Homo sapiens: one gene and its partner. The protein of the gene in region 2 interacts with the protein of the main gene of each other region in a biochemical or structural test. Each region holds a gene or a part of one and is shown on either strand. Other genes may lie near its edges.

Region 1 (3,750 bases), on a different chromosome or scaffold from region 2:
ATCTGCCTTGGCCTCCCAAAGTGCTGGGACTGCAGGTGTGAGCCACTGCGCCCGGCCTATTGTGACATATTGTGATATTTCTTTCTTTTTTGTGTGACAGTGTCTCACTCTGTTGCAGGCTGGAGTACAGTGGCACAATTTCGGCTCACCTCCACCTCCACTTCCTGGGTTCAAGCAATTCTCATGCCTCAGCCTCCCAAGTAACTGGGACTACAGGCGTGTACCACTACACCCGGCTAATTTTTTATAATTTCAGTAGAGACGGGGTTTCACCATGTTGGCTAGGCTGGTCTCGAACTCCTGACCTCAGGTGATCCGCCCACCTTGGCCTCCCAAAATGCTGGGATTACAGGTGTGAGCCACTGCGCCCGGCCTATTGTGATATTTCTTTACTTAATAACTAGCAGATGAATCTCTTAACAGTATTCTGTTTTCCTCTAAGCATGCATAAAAAGTGGTCAAATAAGTCCATGATGACTCATCACCTTTTCCCTGCAAGGAGTGTACTGTAGATTACCAAACCTGCAGAAGCCGTCTGTGTGGAGACAGGAGGAGGACAAACCAGGCTTGCTCTGCTTCACACCCAGAGACCTGGAGCCACAGCATGTGGAAATTGCTTTCATGACCTTTTATACCCCCTGCTGATAAAGCAATTAGAAAACTGAAGAGTTTCACGGTGGTGAGATAGAATTTCACAATACTGAGTGAGATATTAGCAATGGACTCTCCGTATGTCCCTATGGTCTACAAGCTTAATATGTATCTTTAAACAAACACATAAAAAAATTCATTAACTGGAGAAACAAGATTGTGGCCATAGTCAACACTCTATAATGTCACCATCTTCACCACTATCTCTGCTTAAAATTCTGCCGTACTATCTTCAGAATAAGGATAATGAATTGGAAATACGACCATTTCTTTTCATTGCCCTTGATGGTTACCTTTTTAAAAAAAAAAAAAAAAAAGTAGGGTCTTACTCTATCATCCAGGCTGGAGTATGGTGGCATGATCAGCCTTGAGCTCCTGGGCTCAAGTGATACTCTCGCCTTAGCCTCCAGAGTAGCTAGGATTATAGGTCAGTGCCACCATGCCTGGCTAACTTAAATTTTTTTTTTGTAGAGACAGGGTCTTGCTATGTTGCCTAAGCTGACAATTACTTTATTTAAAAGCTTTTTTTTCTGGCCAGGGGTGGTGGCTCACACCTGTAATCCCAGCACTTTGGGAGGCTGAGGTGGGTGGATCACCTGAGGTCAGGAGTTTGAGACCAGCCTGGCCAATGTGACAAAACCCTGTCTCTACTAAAAATACAAAAATTAGCCGGGCATGGTGGCACGTGCCTGTAATCCCAGCTGCTCAGGAGGCTGAAACAGGAGAATCGCTTGAACCTGGGAGGTGGGGGTTGCAGTGAGCCGAGAATGTGCCACTGCACTCCAGACTAGGTGACAGAGTGAGACTCTGTCTCAAAAAAACAAAACAAAACTTTTTTTTTTTCTTGAGATACGGAGTCTAGCTCTGTCACCCAGGCTGGAGTGCAGTGGTGCGCTCTCAGCTCACTGCAACCTCTGCCTACCGAGTAGCTGGGATTACAGGCACCCGCCATCATGCCCAGCTAATTTTTGTATTTTTAGTAGAGACGGGGTTTCACCATATTGGCCAGGTTGGTCTTGAACTCCTGACCTCATGTGATCCGCCTGCATCGGCCTCCAAAGTGCTGGGATCAAAGGTGTGAGCCACTGTCGTGCCTGTCCTTTTTTTTTTTTTTTTTGAGACAGAGTGTCACTCTGTCACCCAGGCTGGAGTACAGTGGCATAATCTCGGCTCACTGCAACTTCTGCCTCCCCGGTTCAAGCAATTCTCCTGCCTCAGCCTCCCGAGTAGCTGGGACTACAGGCTCCTGCCACCACGCCCAGCTAGTTTTTTGTACTTTTAGTAAAAACACGTTTCACTGTGTTAGCCAGGATGGTCTCGATCTCCTGACCTCGTGATCCACCCGCCTCGGCCTCCCAAAGTGCTGGGATTACAAGCGTGAGCCAACACGCTCGGCCTGGCTTTTTTTTTTTTTAACATGTTCCATATGGGGCAGGGCTAAATGTTAGGCAGTGCGCCCATAGTCACTGCCAATTACTTTTTTTTTTTTTTTTTTTGAGACGGAGTCTCGCTCTGTTGCCCAGGCTGGAGTGCAGTGGCGCAATCTCAGCTCACTGCAAGCTCTGCCTCCCAGGTTCATGCCATTCTCCTGCCTCAGCCTCCCAAGTAGCTGGGATTACAGGCGCCCGCCACCATGGCTGGCTAATTTTTTTTGTATTTTTAGTAGAGACAGGGTTTCACCATGTTAGCCAGGATGGTCTCGATCTCCTGACTTCACGATCCGCCCCCCTCGGCCTCCCAGTGCTGGGATTACAGGCGTGAGCCACTGCGCCTGGCCAATCACTGCCAATTACTTTTGAACAGAGAACATCATATGTAATTAGAGGAGGCGGGATATTGTTGGTGCAGCTATATCATTCAAAATTGGCAGAAGTCCTGAAGCTGGTGGGGCTAAAAAAAAAATTGGTGGAACGGCGTATGTTGAGACCTGGAATAGCTTCTCTGGAAGGTGCTCTAAGGCAGGGGGTAGAGTAGTACATAGGTAGTCAAATGATGAGGCTGAGGGTGTCTACCAATAACACAACGCCACAGAGCTTCCTTGGCACACTTCCCGCTGCTGCTATGTGGGATCCTGTCTGGCTCGCTTAGGATTCTGCAGGTCACCAGGTGGTGAGGCCTTGCTTGCTGAGATGCTCCGGAGAGAATGCAAGCTCTGCGTCTGCTGCAGGCGCAGGGCGAGCTCCCGCTCACAGGCCTCCTGAACAGTCTCCGTCTTCTTTATGTCCCAGTTCAAGGCAACAGCCAGTGCTTTGGGGTCTTCCTTGGTAACCAACTGCAGCAAGAATAAAAACCCCTGAGAACTGGGCCTTCTGTGCGCCTCTCCTGCTGCTCTCCTGACTCTCTTTTGGGGAGTGCAATGAGGCAGTATCCGTTTATGTTACCTCTTTACACTGAAATGCCGGGTTTCCTTTACCATTAATTGCCACGGGCTTTTTGTTTTTTGAGACGGAGTCTCGCTCTGTCACCCAGGCTGGAGTGCAGTGACACTATCTCGGCTCCCTGCAAGCTCCGCCTCCCGGATTCACGCCATTCTCCTGCCTCAGCCCCCTGAGTAGCTGGGACTACAGGTGCCCACGACCACGCCTGGCTAATTTTTTTGTATTTTTTTTAGTAGAGACGGGGTTTCACCGTGTTCGCCAGGATGGTCTCGATCTCCTGACCTTGTGATCCGCCCACCTTGGCCTCCCAAAGTGCTGGGATTACAGGCGTGAGCCACCGCGCCCAGCCTGCCATGGGCTTTTTTAAGACGGAGTTTCACTCTTGTCGCCCAGGCTGGAGTGCAGTGGCGCGATCTTAGCTCACGCAACCTCCACCTCCTGGGTTCAAGTGATTCTCTTGCTTCAGCCTCCCACCACCATGCCAGGCTAATTTTTGTATTTTTAGTAGAGATGGGGTTTCGCCATGTTGGTCAGGCTGGTCTCGAACTCCTGACCTCAGGTGATCCACCTGCCTCGGCCTCCCAAAGTACTGGCATTAACAGGCGTAAGCCACTGTGCCCGGACAAGCATGGGCCTTTTCTTACAACACCAACAGGAAGAAGTCCTTGGAAAGTTTACTTGGAGCAACTCTAAGGTCCTCCACCTTCAGGAAATTTAGCCA
Region 2 (3,520 bases):
GGTGGTTGCCCAGCTCTGTGCAGGTACCAAAGGCCCCTGAATCGCAGTTTACAGGGAGACTCATCTGCTATGTGAGTTGTAACTTGATAAAAGCTGTTACTAAAAAAGAAGATCCTGGGATGCTGTTCAAGGCCCAGCCCCAGGAGCCACGCGGGGAGGACGGCCGCCCACCCCTGCCAGCCTGCAGACCCGGCCACCGCTCCAGTCCTGGCCAACGCCGCCCCCTCCTGGGAGAAGCCTTGGGATCCACAACCTCCCTTTTTAAAACAGGGAAGGGCCGGGCGCGGTGGCTCACGCCTGTAATCCCAGCACTTTGGGAGGCCGAGGTGGGCAGATCACAAGGTCAAGAGTTGGAGACCAGCCTGACAAACATGGAGAAACCCCTTCTCTACTAAAAATACCAAAAGTTAGCCTGGCGTGGTGGCGGGCGCCTGTAGACCCAGTTACTCGGGAGGCTGAGGGAAACAGGTTTGTCGGAAGCCCCACAGCCAGCATGGACAGAGGTGGGCTGGGACTCAGGCGGGCTCTGAGCGTTTCTTCATTATGATTTATTGGTCCCTCCCTGTCCCTCCCACCCGTCCTCACCCACCCCACTGCACCCCTGGAGGGGAAGGGTCCTGTGGAGACAGCGAGGGGGTCCCCATCACCCCAGGGCATCAGGCCGATCGGCCGGTGACCTTCCTGATCCAGGACACGTAAGGCGCCACAGCGGTGGCCACGGGAGGCTTGAAGATGTCAGTGCAGACCCTGGAGCTGAAGGACAGGACTCTGGCCAACACCCGGCCTTTGCCACACACCAGGGGCCCGCCCGAGTCACCCTGCAGGGACGACACACCGCAGCTCAGCCTCTGCACCTGCTGAGGGGACGAGGGGAGCAGGGCCCGCCGAGGGGAGCAGGGCCAGGCCTGTTATCCCCAGGCTCAAGGAGACACAGGGGCTGCTCCCGGCCCACGCGTGTCCCCTCCCCATCTCCCGCTGGCCCTGTGAACCCTGCTCCTTCTTCCCCCGCCGGACCGTCTTGGCTGGAGCAGAAGTCACAGCTCTGCCGCTTCCCGGCTGTGTGGTCTTGCGCAGGTTGCTAAACCTGTCTGAGCCTCAGTTTCTGCACCTGAGAAACGGGACCCCTGCCAGTGCTTCCCCGCCCCCCAGCCCCTGACAGGACTCCCCAGAGAACGGGAGAGCCAGGAACCTGCCCGGCGGCTGCCCTGGCCCCGGCCCTCCCGCCAGCCTCATTCCCCCAGCCCCACCCGGGCGCCCCTCACCTTGCAGGGAGCCTGGTCCTTGGAGTCGGCCGCCAGGCAGACCATGCTGGGGGAGAGGCTGCCGTTCCAGAAGCGGCTGTTGTTACACATGCGGGTGTCCAGCACTTGGAGGTCCAGCTCCCGCAGCACCCGGGACAGGCGCCCGCCCTGGTGGGTCAGCCCCCAGCCGGCCATGCTGCACCGAGTCCCTGCTGCCACCACCTGGCGCTTACTGGGCAGGGCCAACGGCCGGATGGTCCGGCTGGGCTTCACTTTCCCGTCCAGCTACGAGTGACAGGAAGGGGCAGGTGAGCAGGGGGAGGGGGTGAGAGTGCGGGGGCGGGGGGCGGCAGCGGGGGGAGGGGTGGCAGTGGGGGGAGGGTGGGCAATGGGGGAGGGGGCAGTAGTGCGGGGGGAGGGGCAGCAGTGCGGGGGGAGGGTCGGCAGCGGGGGGAGGGCGCAGTGGGGGTGAGGGGCACCCGTGGGGGACAGGAGGGTGCCCAGTTCTCCCTGTCCCGTCCCTGCACACCTGAAGCAGCGCGAGGTCGTTCTCCAGGGCAGGGACGGGCTTGTAGCGAGGGTGCTGGATGGCTGCCTTGATGTGGAAGGTGAGACCGGGGCTGTCCAGGGTGTGGAGCCCCAGCACCAGCCTCAGCTGGGCCATCCTGGGGACAGAGGGAATCAGGGTGCTGCGGCCTGGCCCGGCGTGGACGACCCGCCACATGCAGTCCCGGCCCCCACTGTGCCCGTTGTCCATGGCCATCACTCACAGCCGCTGCCCCTCACAGGCCTTGGCTTGGCCAGTCCTTCCCTGTGTCTTTGCAACCCACCTCCTCCAGGAAGCCCTCCCTGCTCTCACCCCTGCCCCAGACTTCTGCCCGGCCCTGGCCCCAGGCAAGGGCTGTGTGTCCAAAAATCCAACCCCAAGCCTACAGCTTCACGAAAACCAGCCCTGGGAATTCCCTTCACTTGGGGCCCCAGGCTCAACCACAGTGATTTGTACAGGGGTTGACACATGCCAATCCTCCTAAGTGTGCCCCAACTTTAGAGAGCCAAGCCCTCTTTCCATGGGACTGAGGAGGGTCAATCTTTCCACCTTGTGAGACAGGCTTCCTGGTAGTGCAGCAGAGCTGGGAGACAGATGGGCTCCACAGCGCCTCCTGTGAGCACCTGGATCAAGCCGCACCTGAAGCCAGGCCTCCTCCTAGACTTTGCAGTTACACAAGCCGGCAGATCCCTTTTTGTTACTTTGACCATCTTGATCTGGGCTCTGTATGACGGACCAGTCCTGAGGTAGGGCAACTCCATGATGGGTCATTTAGCGGCTTCCTGATCCCCGGGAACCAGGTCGATTCCCGAGCCACTCTCGAAGGCCGGCTTCGACCTCCTGGCCACAGGTGGCAAACACCCCCACCTGACCCTCCTTCCTTATAGCAGAAGCCCCCGCCTAAGTTGGGTCCATCAGCAGGTGAATGGACAGACACAATGCACTCTGTCCACACCAGGACTGTGGCTCAGCCGTGAAAGGAGCCAGGCTCTGACCCAGGCTGCGGTGTGGAAGGAGCTGGCCCTGCCAGTGCCTCTTGCAAGGAGTAAACCTTCTCCAGGAGTCCCACAGCCGCAGGTCACTTAAACCTGCCTAAGTCGTCACCGGGAGGGGACGGGGGTCCCACAATGGGCCTAAATCTCCCAGAGCCCACCCCCTGCAGAGAATGGGCGCCGTCGGATGGATTCCCCGGACCCCTGGGGTGGGCAGGGCAGGGTACTCACCGCTGGGCCAGGCAGTGGGCAGCCGTCAGCACCCACTTTGGGTGCACCAGGACACCCCCGCACAGGTGGGAGCCATTTCTCTGCAGTGAGGCCATGTACGGGCGCGAGTGGGGGATCACCTCCCGGCCCCCGATGATCTGGGTCCCAAAGGAGCTGCCTGCCAGGATGGGGGACAAAGAGCCAGGTTGGGGCTACATGCCCCTGCTGCCTGCTGCGACTGTCCTTGCCCAGCTCAGAGGCCCAGGACCCCAAGCAGATGTGCCATCCTAATGAAGTCCCCAGTGTTCCCCGAAACTTTTAGGCTGATACGTGTGGGCTGCCCTTCATCCCTCCCATCCCCCTCTCATCACCCCCATCATGTTCCCCCCAGGCCACCTCCCAATCCCCTCTCCAGGACCTCCCCAGGCCCCACTGGGCCCCACAGCCACAGGAGTCCTTCAAAACGCACATCAGGCCGGATGTGGGTGGCTCACCCCTGTGATCCCAGCACTTCGGGAGGCTGAGGAGGG

The links. The genes of interacting proteins can lie anywhere in the genome.
Region 1: of the proteins of GZMM (region 2) and DFFA, one has a biochemical effect on the other in vitro, tested with the Homo sapiens proteins (one study listed by BioGRID).

The regions. Positions count from the first base shown.
Region 1 is NC_000001.11:10,458,780-10,462,529, forward strand, and holds part of DFFA (DNA fragmentation factor subunit alpha), read right to left. Parts: exon of another isoform or gene 2,924-3,750; coding exon 2,711-2,923; 3' UTR 1-2,710. UniProt on the Homo sapiens protein: Inhibitor of the caspase-activated DNase (DFF40).
Region 2 is NC_000019.10:546,928-550,447, reverse strand, and holds the end of GZMM (granzyme M isoform 1 preproprotein), read right to left. Parts: intron 3,169-3,520; coding exon 3,012-3,168; intron 1,907-3,011; coding exon 1,771-1,906; intron 1,527-1,770; coding exon 1,263-1,526; intron 819-1,262; coding exon 657-818; 3' UTR 526-656; downstream 1-525. UniProt on the Homo sapiens protein: Cleaves peptide substrates after methionine, leucine, and norleucine. Physiological substrates include EZR, alpha-tubulins and the apoptosis inhibitor BIRC5/Survivin. Promotes caspase activation and subsequent apoptosis of target cells.